Linked DNA regions of Homo sapiens: region 1 is linked to region 2. The links come from fine-mapping of genetic effects on gene expression. Tissue or cell type: tibial nerve. Region 2 holds a variant in brackets; the other region holds the start of a gene. All regions are shown on one strand. Distances are from middle to middle.

What was found. PIP is the estimated chance that this variant, and not a neighbour inherited with it, causes the effect.
Region 1: it holds the start of APBA2, and the variant in region 2 is fine-mapped to the expression of APBA2 in tibial nerve (GTEx, PIP 0.98).

Annotation. Positions count from the first base shown.
Region 1 is chr15:28,881,767-28,889,943 of GRCh38, forward strand. APBA2 (amyloid beta precursor protein binding family A member 2) reads left to right here and starts at 4,208. Exons shown (of 15, transcript NM_001353788.2): 1 at 4,208-4,512.
Region 2 is chr15:28,841,376-28,849,552 of GRCh38, forward strand. GOLGA6L7 (golgin A6 family like 7) reads right to left here and starts at 7,269. Exons shown (of 9, transcript NM_001365371.2): 1 at 7,124-7,269; 2 at 5,689-5,817; 3 at 4,845-4,874; 4 at 4,525-4,575; 5 at 4,343-4,436; 6 at 4,154-4,260; 7 at 2,830-2,888; 8 at 2,359-2,500; 9 at 457-2,065. The coding sequence starts at 7,174. The coding sequence ends at 860. It also overlaps the pseudogene PDCD6IPP2. RefSeq lists an enhancer at 3,105-3,651 and a silencer at 7,403-7,537. The variant A/G (reference allele first, on the strand shown) is at 3,256.

The DNA of each region.
Region 1 (8,177 bases), 40 kb after region 2:
GGCTGAATGGTATCGGCATTAAGCATGCAATTCATGTATGCTGTCACTAAGTGGTGGTAGGGATCACAGCCATGTGGTCCAAACATATAGTCACAGACCTTCCTTGTTCTTCTTTTTCCCCCTAAAACAATAGACAAAAGATTTCAGAGATCTTTTACCCTCCAAAGGGTTAAAAACCAGGGTTAAGAATGATAATTACATTTTTTTTTCAGAGATAGATAATATCATATACTTCAAAAATTAAAAATTGGCCAGGTGCGGTGGCTCATGCCTGTAATCCCAGAACTTTGGGAGGCCGAGGCAGGCAGATCACGAGGTCAGGAGATCGAGACCATCCTGGCTAACACAGTGAAACCCCGTCTCTACTAAAAAATACAAAAAATTAGCCGGGCATGGTGGCGGGCGTCTGTAGTCCCAGCTACTCTGGAGGCTGAGGCAGGAGAATGGCGTGAACCCAGGAGGCGGAGCTTGCAGTGAGCCAAGACAGAGCTACTGCACTCCAGCCTGGGTGACAGAGCGAGACTCTGTCTCAAAAAAAAAAAAAAAAAAGAAAAAGTAAAGGAAAAGGAAAATCACTGAAAAGTTTTCCTGTCACCCCCGCCCCAGACACTACTTTCTTTCCCAAGGGTGACAACATTTTTCAGTTTACTGTGATCCTTCCAGAAAGGCTTTATTATTGTATATGAGCATCTATAGGCTCACCCTTTTTTCCTTTTTGCTTTTTTTACTCACATGGTGGCATACTACACACATCTTCTGCCCTTTGTTCTTTCACTTAACAATTATCTTGGAGAACTTCCCATGTTAATTTATCATGCGTTTCTTCCTTCTTTTATGGCTGCATTCTATTTCAGTGTTGGGAAGTGCCCTCATGCATTGAACAGTGCCCTTTTCATGGGTATCAAGATTGTCTGCAGTCACTTACTACAGAAACATAGCACCATGAATGATTCTACTCATGCCTGTTTTGCACGTGTGATATACAAGTCAAAAAATTCCTAGAAGTGAATTCTTAGGTCAAAGAGCTTGTGCATTTGTAATTTTGATAGACATCATCTGATTTTCCTACACAGAAGTTGTACTGATTTACACTCCCATGGGCAGTGTGGGTATCTGCCAGTTTCCTCTTGCTTTCTGGAATATATTGTATTACTGAACTCCTGGGTCTCTGATCAGTGAACACAATGACATCTCAGCATAGTTTTAATTTGCATTTCTTTTTCTTTTTTTGAGATGGAGTCTCACTCTGTTGCCCAGGCTCAAGTGCAGTGGTGCGATCTCAGCTCACTGCAACCTTTGCCTCCCAGGTTCAAGCGATTCTCCTGCCTCAGCCTCCCAAGTAGCTGGGATTACCGGTGCTCACCACCATGCCCAACTAATTTTTGTATTTCTAGTAGAGACGGGGTTTCACCGTGTTGGCCAGGCTTGTCTCAAACTCCTGACCTCAAGTGATCCACCTGCCTCGGCCTCCCAAAGTGTTGGGATTACAGGTGTGAGCCACCATGCCTGGCTTAATTTGCATTTCTTATTATGAATAAGGGAGGACAGCTTTTCAGATGTTTAAAAGTCATTTGTATTTCCTTCCCTGTGAATTGTCTGCTTCTTACCCTTTACCTGTTTCTTTGTCTTTTCTGTTAAGAGACAGTCTCATACTGCTGCCCAGGCTTAGTGCATTGGGATGATCATAGTTCACTGCAGCCTGGAACTCCTGGGCTTAAGTGATCCTCCTGTCTCAGCCTCCTGAGTAGCTGGGATTACAGGTGTGAGCCAAGGTGGGGGCCTGGTGATGATCCGTGATGCCTTCTTTTGATTTTTTTTTTCTTATCAATTTCTAGATGCTATCTATGTGTTAGGGAAATTAGCTGCTTGTGATATGAATTGCAAATAATTTTTTCCCCTTTGTTGTAGACTTTGCTTATGGTAGTGATTGCCATGCCAGAGTTTCTTTGAAGTCAAACTTAGCTGTTTTTTTGTTACCACTTTTTGATTTTGTTGCATACTTAGAAAGGCCTTTCCCATTCCAAGATACTTTTTTTTTTTAAATTTAAAATTTTAAGTTCCCAGATACAAGTACAGAACGTGTAGGTTTGTTACATGGGTATATGTGTGCCATGGTGGTCTGCTGCACCTATCAACCTGTCATCTAGGTTTTAAGCCTCACATGCACTAACTGTTTGTCCTAATGATTCTTCAAAAATTCTCTGAATACTGGCAGTTGGCTCAAGCTCACCAGATTTAGGAGTCCTGAGTGAGGCTGGGGGCAGGCCTGTACCTTTATTTTTAAATTTATTTAATTTATTTCATTTTTTAAAATGATAGGGTCTTGTTCTGTCACCAAGGCTGGAGTGCAGTGGCACGATCACAACTCACTGCAGTCTTGAACTCCTGGGCTCAAGCGAGCCTCCTGCTTCAGCTTCCCAAAGTATTGGGATTATAGGTGGGAGCCACTGTTCTTGGCCCTAGGCCTATACCTTTCATCTTGTGGACTGAGGACTTCAGCCACTATCACTCCCGGGTGCTGCGATGGGGTTTAATTTCCAGTGACTGGCCCAGAGCCTGCTCATGGGAAGATCTCAAGGGAGGCTGTTGAAGGAACAGCATGCAACTTACCGGCCCACACACGTTCACACAGATGGGGGTGGGGGTTTGAGGAGGTGGGGGGTGTTGTGTGGATCAGCTTCAGGCACAGGTGTCTGGTTTCCTATGGGATGTGACCACATAACAGTAAGGCAAGAAGATGACTGCATTTATCTTCTCAGAATCACTTCTTCTTAATTGTTGCTTCCCACTATTGGCATTGGTGAAAGGCTGGGCCACAGGAGGCTGGATGAACTTTGTGTTAGCCAGGTAAGCAGAATGTCTATGCAGGTGGAAAGTAGACAGTGAAGGTGTGCTCATCTGAGTACGGAGGGGCATAGGTCAGGAACCTCGTTGGCCTGCCCTGGCCTTTGCCCCTTTGTTTGGCCCTGTGGCTACAAAGCTCCCCTACCAGGAGCAGCCCCCACTGGCGGCTCTGGCCCTGGAAACCTGTGAATGTTTGGTGGGGGCAGGGTGTGGAGAGGCCAAGTCCACAGTGTATCTAACCCTAGTCCATCTCAGGATTCGGCTTCCCCCAGCCCCTTCTCCTTAGGGTCTCAGCTCGGGCCCTCAGGGCAGCAGGAAGATGCGCTGTCCTCACTCCCAAGTCCCCCTGCCCTTCTGTGCCTTCTGACCTGGGCAGAACTTCCCATGCCACAGCTTCGCCTAATCCAGCCACAGGAGAAAAGAAAACGAGGGCAAATCACCACGATTTGGGGGGAGGGAGGCCCCTGAGCCCCCGCTCTGCCCAGACAAGGCATCCTGTGCATCTCCCATGGCTCATCACATCTGCCTGGGACTCAGTGAAAGGGCCAGAGGGCCAAAGGTGACACCGGAGTCTCCAGCACGACCTTCGAGGGCCTCCAGGGCATTTCTCGCGCTGTAGGGGCGGAAGACTGGCTCCCCTGGGGATGCATGTGAGTGTCTAGGAGTGTACGCTCCCCAGGGCCCCGCGGAGGTCAGGGTTCTCTCCATTTAGGACAGCAAGGAGAGAAAGCCCTGGAGTGAGGCCCTGGGGCTGGGGGCTAAAGCAGCACAGAGTATCAGAAACGGGGTGCTGGGATGGTTACCGGGGACCGCCAGGGAAGACTTGGGAGTCCAGCATGCGCCTAGGGGAGCTGCGGTGGGGAGGCAGCAGGGGGCCTCCTCTGCCGGATGGGGCCTTCGGAGGCCGCGATCCCCGAGAGTTCTTCGCTCGAGGGTTCTTCGCTCTAGGGTCCCCCATTACAGCTGCGCGGGGCCGAGCAAGCAGGGCGCGGCGGCCGGGGCAAGGTGCGGAGCCTCGCGTTCACCGGCTCTACCTGCGGAGCCTCGCGTTCACTGGCTCTACCTGCGGGACCAGACCCCTGCAGCTCCCCAGCCAGCACGGCCGGGGCACGCCCGGGAATCTGTGTGCTCCCCAGGGCCCGGGGCGTTCGGGGCGCCGCGCCTTCCAGCGCCTGGGTCCCAGCCCCGATCCCGGAGACCGGCCCGGGGGGACCCGGGGTCCCGAGTGCACCCTCCTGCCCTGCAGACTGTCCCAGCGCCGGGGCCAGGGGGCGCAGGACCTCGCGCACGCCCGGCACGGACGCATCTTTGTCTTCCCTCTCTTCACGGCGCGCGATCTAGCCGGGAATCGTTTTCCGGCCCCAGTGTGCCCGGCGCGGGTGAGGCGGAAGCGGCCGGGGCGGGGGCGCAGGCCCGGCAGCCGCAGGCCGGTGCGGGATGCGCCCCGCAGCCGCGCCGCGTGCGCCCGGCAGAGGCGGCCCTGCGTGCCGTACGCTGCGTCCGGGGCGCGCCCGCCGCTATTCGGGAAGCTATTCAGCTTCCCGGGCTCATTAGCAGTCGCGGTGTGCGGCTCGGCGCGGGCTCACAAAGAGCTCGGCCTCGCGGACTGAGCCGGCGGCAGCGGGGCGGGGACGGCGGCGTACCCGGGCAGCCCAGCGCCCTGGCCAGGTAAGCTGGGGAACCTGGGCTGCCTGACTTGCCGGCGGCGGCAGCCTGGGGCCGCCCGGGGCGCCGCGAGGACCCGGACGCGTGGGGGGCGGCGCGGAGGTTGCGGCCCGAGCGCTCCAGAGCGCTGCCCTCCCGACTCAGCGTGGCTGCGGGGCGGCCGCCGCTGGGATATGGGGGTACAGCCCGGCGGCCCCACTCCTCTCTGACCGGCCGCTTCCCCCTCCCACGACGGGTGGGCGGGCGGGGCGGGGACCAGGCGGCGGCTCTCGCATCCCGCGCGGGGGGCACCGCGGCAAGGGGCCACCCGGCGCGGACAAGAGGCGCTGTGTGGCGGGGCTGTCCGCTCGACTCCTGCCGGGCTGGCCGGGCTGCTTGGCACCGGCATCAAGTCCCCGTGCCGGGCGGCAACTACTGAGTTTGGGGTCGCCTCTGGGTTCGCTGCCCCCAGAGAACCCAAGCCCAGATCTTCGCCCCCTTCCCTTTCCCTTTATAATAAGGCCCAGAGGGGAAAACTTATCAATTCAAAACCCCACACCCCGTTGCTCCTGGGCTGCAGGTGCCCGGTTGGGGGCACGGCGCGGACCTGCCCCTCGGCCTGGCCCCTTCCCCATGGCAGGCACTGCCTGGCAAGGCTGCTGGCGGGAGATCTGGCTGCAGATGGTGAAGGAGAACATCGAGGCCCCCGGTCCCCAAGCAGGGCGCCATGGGCCGGGCAGCGGGCCTCGGTGTGCCCAGGCGGGGAGGGGGCGAACTTCCTTTCTCCGACGCCTGCCGAGGACCGCCGTGGAGAGCAGAGCCTTAGAGGGGCCTGCTAGTCTTAACTTCGTATTTACTGGCAGAAGGAAGGCTTAATTTTTCAGATCTATTCAGATACGACCTGGCAGGCACCAGACATAAATCTGTGGTTGAGTGCAGTCAGCTCCTAAATGGGCATGTGGAGGGTGAGGCACCCCGAACTCGGCATCTTGCGTCTGGCACTGTTTTTGGGCTAAACTGCCTCTGGCCTCTTCAACCTCCTGTGCCTCTTTCTGTTTTTGTTTTTGTTTTATTTTTCTGTTTTCCTTCCTCTTTGAGAAAGGACAGTGATTTTAGAAATAATGACCCGAGAGCTTTGCAGGTTGAAGTGGGACGAGTTTTCCTAAGGTGCAGGTTGGCAGGTGCCAGGAGCCTGCAGGTGGCTTTTTCTCAGGCCTCTGGGTCAGGGTCCCTCCAATGAGGTGAGGCAGGGGTTTCTCCTGTGTGTCGCCACTACGCAGGGGACAGGATCTGGGTTTCCCAGTCCAGGGCGTCCAGGATGCCCTGCCCTCTGTGCTGATTCCTGGGTGACCGTGGGGGCTGCTTCCCCCTGCAGCCTGGGCTGGAGAGGGTCTCCTGAGCTTAGGATCTGCCAGGCAGGAGGGCCAGGGTGACACGGACCTGGAACGCTGGGGCTCCAGGCAATGTCCAGGGCGTGAGTGGGTAAAGCTGGAGCTTGTGGCTGTGTGCCGGCAGCCTTCCCTCGGTGGGCTCTAGCAGCACTGTCAGGGGGGCCCTTGGAGTGGGCTCCATGGCTGGGCTGGGACTGGGTGATGGCATTAGCGATGGGGCACCGAGTCTTCCCTCTTATTTATTAGGAAGTGTGGTCTGTGCCCCTCCCTACTGCCGGTCTCCTGGGCTCCTGGGATGGGAGGAGCTGCAGGCTGAGTCCCACGGGGTGTGAGTGTGTGTGAGCAGGAGAGTTGGGTGGGCGCTGGAAGGAGGTGAAACTGGTGACCGTCAGCTCCTCATTCTCTTCCACCTTGCATGTTTTCTCTGACACCCTAGACTCAAGTTGTGGCCTGCTAGTTAACTTGTTTACAAAACCTTTTTAAGTAGTTCTAACCTCTTTTTTTCAACAAAATGTTAGTTTTACAGGCATAATTGGTGGGGATGGATTGTGAAATGGAGGTGCATAAATACCTAGTTTGCCAACTGAGCTAAGAAATACTGGATAAAAATAAGAGATAATTGTAAAAGACACTGATCACACCCCTGGAAGCTGAGAGGGGTGATAAGACACCTTGATTTTTCCTAGACAAAACTGAGGAAGTCAGAGGAAAAACAGTTGATGGTGAGGTTGGCATCAGGCTGGGCTTTGTTTGGATTGGGCGGCGGTGGCTGTGGTGAGGGCTGTTGGAGTGGGGAGAGTGGGGGTTGAGCCTGGCTTCAGAGACCCCCTCGAGGCCTCAGCTCCTCTCCGGCGCTCCTGGCTGTCCTCTGCCACGCATACCTGCCCCGGTGACTCAACAGGTGTGGGCCTCAGGTGACACCATGGTCCGAAGTCGTGGAGAAACCTTTACTGTCCAGGGGAGGAGAGGACTGGCGGTCGGTGGGGATCGAGACCCAGCACACATCACTGGGTGGCTCGAATGTCTTCGGCAGAGATCACATGCCCTGCCTTGCAGCCTGGTCCTTAGAGAATGGGGAGAGTGGAGAGAGCTCTGGGCCTGGGTGGCGGGCGGTCCTGGCTGTATCACTCACAGGCTGCGTGCCCTCCCCATGCAGTCTCAGTTCCTCACCCTTGCCAGGTGGCTGTGAGGACTGGGAACGTGGAGGCACAGGTAGGATGTAAGGTAGCCACTGACCACCAGGCAGGCCTCCCCGATGTAGGTCAAGTTTGAGATGGTTGCTCACCAGGAGGCAGCCTGTGTGCCCGGTGGGGGCTGGGGGTGAAGTTTGAGAGGGTTGCTCACCAGGAGGCAGCCTGTGTGCCCAGCGGGGGCTGGGGGTGCTCTTTGTTCCCTTGGGTGGTGGTTGGCCCGAGTGCCCACAGGGAGGCTTCTCTGGCTCCTTCGTTTCCCAGAGTTCCTCCCCAACCCCCTGCCGCCCACCGCCTGGGTTGGGTCCAGCTCGTGTCTCAGAGCAGCCTGCTGGCACAGGCTGAGTCAGCTGTCGTGGGCACCGTCTTTTCTCGCCTCCCCTGAAGCCAATCTTCCCCTCTCTCCCTGTCCAGACACACAAGGGAGCCCTGGGAGGTAGGTGACCTCAAGATCATGCAGCCAGGCTCACTCTGTGGAACCCTACGTACTGGTGGGGTGCCACTGCTGTGTGCATTGTGATTTCTGTGCTGGCTGTGAGGTTTCCCAGGTTGGGGGCTGTGGGGTACTCCTGACTCTGCAAGTTGGCCCAGGCCAGGTGTGTCACCATTGCCCAGGCCTTCAGTGGCTTTCCAGTGCTCCCTCCACATCCACGTTACTCGGCTGGATTTTCTCAAGTTCCCCCACTTGCTCCCAAGAATGGCCCCTCCAGGCTGCCCTGGCTCCAGGCAGACAGGCTTACTGCCCAGATCTGCCCTGGGTTGTCCCCACCCCATCCCCACCTGTCATCTTGGCGCATGTCCATCCTGGAGATCCCAACTGAATGTGGGCTCTTTCCCTCTTATTCCTTGGTCCTCAGATTTGTCAGGCCACTCTTGCCTCAGGGCCTTTGCACCTGCTGTTCCCACCCCCTTGGCATGAGCCACCCCCAGATGCTCACATGGCTGGCCCCTCACTTATTGCCCACTCCCTGAAAGCCCTACATAAATTGGCTTTGTTAACCTTGCTTTGTGTTTCTCTTGTTAACCTTGCTTTGTGTTTCTCCTTAGTACTCACCATTCAGTGTGTTATTTATTTACTTGTTTGTTTATTGTCAGTCTCTTACCACTC
Region 2 (8,177 bases):
AAAAACTGGACAAAAATGTGTCCCCCCTTCCCCCCACCATCAAAAACAATTGTTGGAAGGTAATTGGGGACCTCAGCCAGGACTTGAGTGACCAGGCCTAGGAGGTGATCCTGACAGTCCTTAGTGCTTTTCCCACATTTGGTGATCGGTCAACAGTAGAGGGCTAAGAGGCTAAGAAACTGAGTATGAAGTGATAGTTAAGAGGCTGGAGAGCCTAGCTGAATGTTTGGCACTCTCACAGGGCTGAAATGACATAATGAGAATTTGGGTCCCAGTAAGGAGATGAGACCTTGGTGGGGATCCTGGAAGGGCCACCCCTAAGAGTCCAAAAGAATAAAAAATAGACCAGCTGTCACAAAAACTAAAACCTGCTTTGAGCCAGCTTAGTCCCAAACTAGATGAAGGCGATCTGCTTGAACGCCAATTGTGTGCCATAAAGTCAAAGTCAGTACTCTCTGGAGGCAGATAAAACTTTACTAGGCATGCCATAAGACAAGACAACGCAAGACAAAAGGAGAAAACAAACAAAAAAAACAATAGAAACATACATAGATATTAGAGTCCTCAGGTAGAATTTTTTTTTTTTTTTTTGAAATGGGAGTTTCACTCTGTCACCCAGCCTGGAGTGCAGTGGTGTGATCTCAGCTCACTGCAACCTCAACCTCCCACGTAGCTGGGATTGGTGATCCACCCGCCTAGGCCTCCCAAAGTGGTGTGATTACAGGTGCAGGCCACCGTGCCCGGCCAGTATTTTGCCACAATTTAAAATAAATTTTCTTTTTTTCAAGTTTGTTCTCAGACTGTATTCACAAGGTCACATGGCGGCTTACACTTCTGTAGGCCTTGTTGACCGTTCTTTTTAGATACTGATGATCTTGATCTTTTTCTTGTCTCCTCCGTAGAAGAATGGGATGCAGGAGGTGCTGCCTAAGCCTGGGCGCTCCTGGGCGTTCTTCATTCCAGGGGGCAGCTGCATGATCTGTGCAGTGCGGTTGTCATGGGAATAACCCTTCCCGGCCTCTCGTGCAGGCTCCAGGCTGCCAGGGTGGCTCATATCAGAAGGATATTTGGAGGGAGGGAGGCAGGGCTCTGAGCACCGCTCCTCCTGCGTCTTCTCCTGCTCTCCCATCCTCTCCTTCTTCTCCCGCCTCTTCTCCACCTGCCTCCGGATCTTCTCCTCCTCCTCCTGCATCTTCTCATACTCATCCCACAGCCTCTCCTCCTTGAATTGCAGCCTCTCCACCTGCTTCCGCATCTGCTCCTCCTGCTCCCCCATCTGCTCCTCCTGCTCCCCCATCTGCTCCTCCTGCTTCCTCATCTGCTCCTCCTGCTCCCCCATCTGCTCCTCCTGCTTCCGCATCTGCTCCTCCTGCTCCCCCATCTGCTCCTCCTGCTTCCGCATCTGCTCCTCCTGCTCCCCCATCTGCTCCTCCTGCTTCCGGATCTGCTCCTCCTGCTCCCCCATCTGCTCCTCCTGCTTCCTCATCTGCTCCCCCATCTGCTCCTCCTGCTTCCACATCTGCTCCTCCTGCTTTCGCATCTGCTCCTCCTGCTCCCCTATCTGCTCCTCCTGCTTCCACATCTGCTCCTCCTGCTTCCGCATCTGCTCCTCCTGCTCCCCTATCTGCTCCTCCTGCTTCCACATCTGCTCCTCCTGCTTCCGCATCTGCTCCTTCTGCTTCAGCATCTGCTTCTCCTGCTTCCGCATCTGCTCCTCCTGCTCCCCCATCTGCTCCTCCTGCTTCCCCATCTGCTCCTCCTGCTTCCGCATCTGCTCCTCCTGCTTCCGCATCTGCTCCTCCTGCTTCCGCATCTGCTCCTCCTGCTTCCGCATCTGCTCCTCCTGCTTCCGCATCTGCTCCTCCTGCTTCCGCATCTGCTCCTCCTGCTCCTGCATCTGCTGCTCCTGCTCCCGCAGCTCCTTCTCCTGGTCCCGCAGCCTCTGCTCCTGTCTCCACATCTTCTCCTCGTGCTTCCGTAGCTTCTCCTGATCCCGTAGCTCCTCCTGATCCCGTAGCTCCTCCTCCTGCCTCCACATCTTCTCCTGCAAAGTGTTGGTTTGAACCTCAAAAGGAAATAGAGTCATAAGCTAGGTATATAAATGTAATCTATAAAATAACGGTTTTCGTCTATGATTCTTTAAAAAGAAATTTTAAGCCGTAACCCTGAGGTTCTGATTTCCCAGGCATGGTCCCAATTTGTAGATTTTTAGCACACTCTAGAGGATTCTGTGGTGGGACCAGAACAAGGACCCAAATTTTCCAGCTCTTGGCTGGAGCCTCCCCACACCCTGCATGATCCCTAGACCATGTCCCAGCCGGATGCGGCTCCCACACCCCCGGGGCTGCCGCCGCTCACCTGTGGCAGCGGGATTTTGTCCGTCTCCAGTTTCCTTTTTAGCTCCTTGATGTGGAGCTGGATCTCAGACTTTTCAGTTTCTACCAGTCGAAGTTTTTCTTGTAGTTCGGCATTTTTCTCCTTCAGCTCCTTATTGGTTATGCTATGGCCGGAGGCAGTAGAGAAAGGAATGAACGAAGAACAGAAAGGACCGCTTTGGTGATCGACCCTCTACCCTCGCCCCACAACCACAGAACCGTGGCACTGGAAGGGACCCCAGGAATTAAAAGTCCCAGGTGGCAGGCCAGAGAGAAGACATGAGTTGCCTGAGGCTACCCCATGAGTCAGTGGCACAGCCGGCACTGGAGCTTCCCTGCACACACATGTAAACCTGTATGACCCCCTACCATGCTCACCTGTACCCCCCACCTCCCAGCACACCACCCACGCTAAGGGCTCTCAGACCTCCCATCCCCCCCTCCCCTATCCTACATGTTCCTGAACAGCTCCAGACTCATGGCTTCCCTCTCCTTTGTTAACTCCTTGATGTACTGCAAACAGAGAAAGGTCAAGTCAGGATACAGCAGGCAGAGGAGCAGCTGGACGACCAGTAACGACAGCTACACTGATACTCCACAGTAACACTTGCTCCTCTCCGTCACACCCGACATGTTCTCAAGGCGTTTCCAAACCCGTGGTGTCATTTGTTTTTCTTTTCTTTTTTTTTTTTTTTTTGAGATGGAGTTTCGCTCTTGTTGCCCAGGCTGGAGTGCAATGGCGCGATCTCACCCCACCGCAACCTCCGCCTCCCGGCTTCAAGCGATTCTTCTGCCTCAGCCTCCTAAGTAGCTGGGATTACAGGCATGTGCCACTGCACCTGGCTCTCACTTGTTTTTCGGAGAACTCAGTAAGGGTGGA[A/G]GGCACAGAGAAAGAGACTGAATTGATAGCTGGCTAACAGGGGCCCAGAGCGATCAGATAATATTGTTATTGCTATTACTGTTATTATTACCACTGTTGGAACCTTTCTTGAGTGCTTCACCAGGCACTATGCTAACAATCCCATTTAATCCTCACAGCCACCACAGGAGACAGTTATCATTATCACCTCTATTGTGTAGATGAAAAACATGGGGTATTAAAGGTTAAGTGCTTGCCTAAGATCACTTAGAGCTGGGATTTCAACACCCAGGTATATCTGATTCTCTAAGCCCATTCTTTTGGTTGGGGGTAGGGGCACAGATAAGGAGGAGGAAATTAATCCTTTGTTGATTTTTGAAAGAATGATACATTGGCATAGTCCAAACCTCAGAAGGTACAGAAGGGAAATATCTTCCCCCAACACTGTTCCTCTCTCCTGAGTTTTTTATGAATCCTTACAAACATGTTTTATGTATATTACCATAATACGTACGTACACACACACACACACACACACACACACACACACACACACGTACATGTGTTCCCTCTCTCTACACAAATGGTAACATACTAAAGATACTCTTCTGTACCTTCATGGTACAAGTACCCTCAACTCCGCCTAGGATTTGACCAAGGCCACAGCCAAGTATGGGTGGGGTGGGCACTTGGCCTCCGAGCTCTGTGTCCAGTGCTCGCTCCCCACAGCGCCCCGCAACTCACCCACAGCAGCTGACTCAGCCCCAACCTGCCTCTAACAACCACGCACAAAAGCAGCAAGAAATGGCCCATGCTGTCTTCTGGGCAGGACACTGCATCCTGCAGAAGGGACCTTTAGGCTCATTCCTCCATCTGCGAAGCTGGGCTCCCAGGGGACCGGGTAGGTGGTTGGACTCACCTTGTCCGCCCTCTCGTGCTCTGCGGACATAGCAGAGAGAGCCCGCTGTAACTCTCCTGCAAAGTGCCAGGAATGATGCAGGCGGGCTGCCAGATCCTTGGAATCTTCTGGAATGAGAGAGGTTGAGCTGCAGCCCAAAGGCCTGTGAAAGTGCCAGGTTGAAGGATGACGGGGTGCCCAGATTCCCACCTTCAAATTTCCTGGCAGCATCCTGGCTGTCATGGAGCGCTGTCTCCAGTTCAGTTTTCTGACACATAAGGATTCGTATGGTATGATCCTGGGCCTTTGGGAGACAAGAAAAGCAAGTGCTGAAAGAGAAGCAAAGAAACCTTCTCCAGAGGACAGGAGGGAACTTCACACCCTCCACTCACCTCTAGCTGCCTCCTTAGGGCTTGCTGATGTTGGTGGCTTGCCTTATTTTCCTATAGAAAAGAAGAGGAAGACAGAGCTCTTACTAGAGGGAGGCAGAGATGGCACAGCAAGAGACATGCCCCCAGAATGGCCCCACTGTCCCAGGACAGGCCCACCCATGGGACCAGGTTATCAGGGACCCTGTGGGGATGGGGTGGAAGCTGGGAGGTGAGCCTTCCTCCCCAAGCTGGGAGTAGGCGAGACGAGACTGGGGCCTCTACATCTGAGTGCCCCCCAAACCCAGCGGTCATGTCGTGAGCAAAGAAAGAAACCATGTTACCTCTTTCAGCTGAGCTCGGTTCTGTTGTTTCTGTGGGGAGAGTCAAAGGAAGGTGACTGAGGGTGGTCCCTCGACTCTATTCCCCAGGCCAGGAAGCGGTAGGCAGGGGTCAGGAATGGATTTTAAGGGCAAAGTTCTCAGACCCAATGGGAACACAAACTGGTCAACTTTCCTTAACGCCCAAAGAAAAAGGATTTGGGTCTTTGTTGGCTTTTGCCCACAGCCACAGAACTGAAAGTCTGAAACTAGATTCTCTGGAAAAGACAGTAACATAAACCTTCCGACATAAGAGTGTGAGAAAAGCCCACCCTTCTGCCAGCTTGTGATGGAGAAAGATGTGTTCATTCAACAAGCATTGAGCAAGCACATAGGGGCCGGGGACGGTTCTTCACTGCTGGGATATAGGACGGAAAAGGCAGACAGGAGCCCTTGGCCCCAAGGTTTCCATTCTAGTGAATCTTTAAATCTCAGACTCTCAGAGCAAACAGAACCTCTGATACTCTAACTCTACCTCCTCAGGAAACGGAAGCCCAAAGAGGAGGGGAGCTTACAGCAGGCCCTGGACTAGGGATTAACACAAAAACAACAGCAACAAATCTGATTTAAGCTTCACACATGTAAGTAAAACATTACCATCCCCATTTTACAGATGTGAAAAGAGAGGCCCAAAGAGCTCGAGCAATTTTCCCTAAACCGTGTCCCTCGCAGTTGGAGAGAGAAGTAGGACTCAAACCCAGAATTCTTAGCCAGTACCCAGCAGTTCTTCCTTCCACAATCTTAACAGTTACCCTCGACCTCCCCCTTGTGCCCCTTGTCCTCAGGAGACCGGCCAGCCAAGACTCACATCCTCAGGCGAGTGGCAGCCCCCCGAAGTGGTTGTCTCAGGGTTAGCGCCATGATTTATTTTCTTCTTTTTGGTGTCGGTTGCTCCGGTACCAACACCAGCACTGTTCCACTGATGATAGTCTGTAAACTGTGGAAAAGAGGAGCAGTGATACTCATGAGAACTACAAGCTCCTACAGTCACTTTACAGTTTATACAAAATACTCTCATAGACGATCTGACTTAATGCCACCAACGACTGTACGAGGTGTTGTCGCAATCACTTAGTGACTGAGAGGGATTGATACCATGGCTAAAAGAAAGGCAATAATGGAACTGAAACTCAGTCTTCTGACTCTGAGCTCTGGGGTGTTGCCACAAATCAGCAGCTGCCAGAGACCAAAACCAGAGGCAGAGGTAGAAAAGTAAAAAGTAGGCAGGAAGGTGTACACTGTGTGGTTTACAGTCGTACATCCTCTTAGAGTCATGTATCCTCAGGGCAGAAGGCAGCCTTTCTGTTAAATGTGGGAATTAAACAGAAAGAGGACAACCCAAGCTGCATTTCAGAGAGAAGTCTTGTATACTCTTTGAAATCTATGTGACTATCATCCCTAAGAACATTAATGTTTTGTGTCTCCCACGAGAATCAAGGAAAACTGATGCTTCAGAAAGATGCCCCATATGTATCCTGTGGCACTCAAAGTACCCCAGGTTGAGATGAGATGAGGAAGATTCAAGTTGTCAAGTCCAGTTTCCCAAGATCTCTTGCACAGAAGATGAGCAAATCTCACTTCAAAGATCACTGACTGATGGGCACTCTGGTCCCAGAACCATGGAGAATTCAAATATGAAGTGGAGAACTTAGAAAAAACTGTTAAAGTCTCTCTGGAGAGTAGAAGCCTGGGAGAAAACCAAACCAAACCCATTATCCCATCAGTGCTGTGCCCAAGTTGCCTCTTTGAGATTGGCATGGGGTCACAGGGTTGGGACCCAGGTACTTGGAGACGTGAGCCCAAAGAGCCCAGGGAAGTCAGGCTTGGGGCAGCGGTAGGTGAGGGCCGAGTATGGAGTGGGGAGCCCCAGGAGTCACCTGCCCAAAGTCACCCTGGGGTGACTGGTGAGGGCAGGTGCTGGGGCATCCGGTTCCTTGGGAACGTGAGCCCGAAGGGCCCAGGGAGATCCATTTTTGGACAATAGGAGGTGAGGGCAGAGTACAAAGCAGGGAGCCCCACGAGTCACCGGCTGAAAGTCACCCTGGGGTGACCGGTGAGGGCAGGGGCAGGACTGCTGAGGGGTTGGGGCTGACACAAGATTTTGGTTGGGGGAGCCCAGAGGCACTGGGGGGGGCCCGGCCCTGCGTGCCTCTGGAGTGACACGGATTCTGGCAGCTGTTCTGCCATCAGAGGGGACCTGGGGCTGGGTTGGGGTTGGGGTGCTGCAATCCGATGCGTTTTACCTTTTTCTTGGTCCCAGCCAATTTTCTTTGTTGGGTTTTTTCGGACATCATGGGGTGGGGAGGGTGGTGGGGTTGGGGTCACATTGGCGTGATCCAGGCGAGGACAGTGATATGCCTCCAGTCACGTACCACACAGCTATGTGACTGAGCCACAGGAGGCGTCACCGGGGCTGCACTAGAATGCGGAAAAGGGGCGTGGCCTTAATGCTCCAAGCCCATTGGTCAATGAGAAAGATGAAAGGGAAAGGAGGCGGGGCCAGGCAGCTGCGGGTCATGAAGGTCCTGTGATGTCACAAGGAAAGCCTCCCATGGAACTGCTGTCCCCGCCCACTCTGGGAGAGGGGCGGGGCTGGCTTTCACTTACTTTTTTTTTTTTTTACATATATAACTTTTTATTATAATTTAAGGTATAGTCGATAATATAATGTTTTTTTTTGTTTTGTTTTGTTTTGTTTTTTTTAATTGATCATTGGGTGTTTCTCGCAGAGGGGGATTTGGCAGGGTCATAGGACAATAGTGGAGGGAAGGTCAGCAGATAAACAAGTGAACAAAGGTCTCTGGTTTTCCTAGGCAGAGGACCCTACGGCCTTCTGCAGTGTTTGTGTCCCGGGGTACTTGAGATTAGAGAGTGGTGATGACTTTTAACGAGCATGCTGCCTTCAAACATCTGTTTAACAAAGCACATCTTGCACCGCCCTTAATCCATTTAACCCTGAGTGGACACAGCACATGTTTCAGAGAGCACAGGGTTGGGGGTAAGGTCACAGATCAACAGGATCCCAAGGCAGAATAATTTTTCTTAGTACAGAACAAAATGAGAAGTCTCCCATGTCTACCTCCCTCTACACAGACACGGCAACCATCCAACCTCTCAATCTTTTCCCCACCTTTCCCCCCTTTCTATTCTACAAAACCGCCATTGTCATCATGGCCCATTCTCAATGAGCTGCTGGGCACACCTCCCAGACGGGGTGGCGGCCAGGCAGAGGGGCTCCTCACTTCCCAGTAGGGGCAGCCGGGCAGAGGCGCCCCTCACCTCCCGGACGGGGCGACT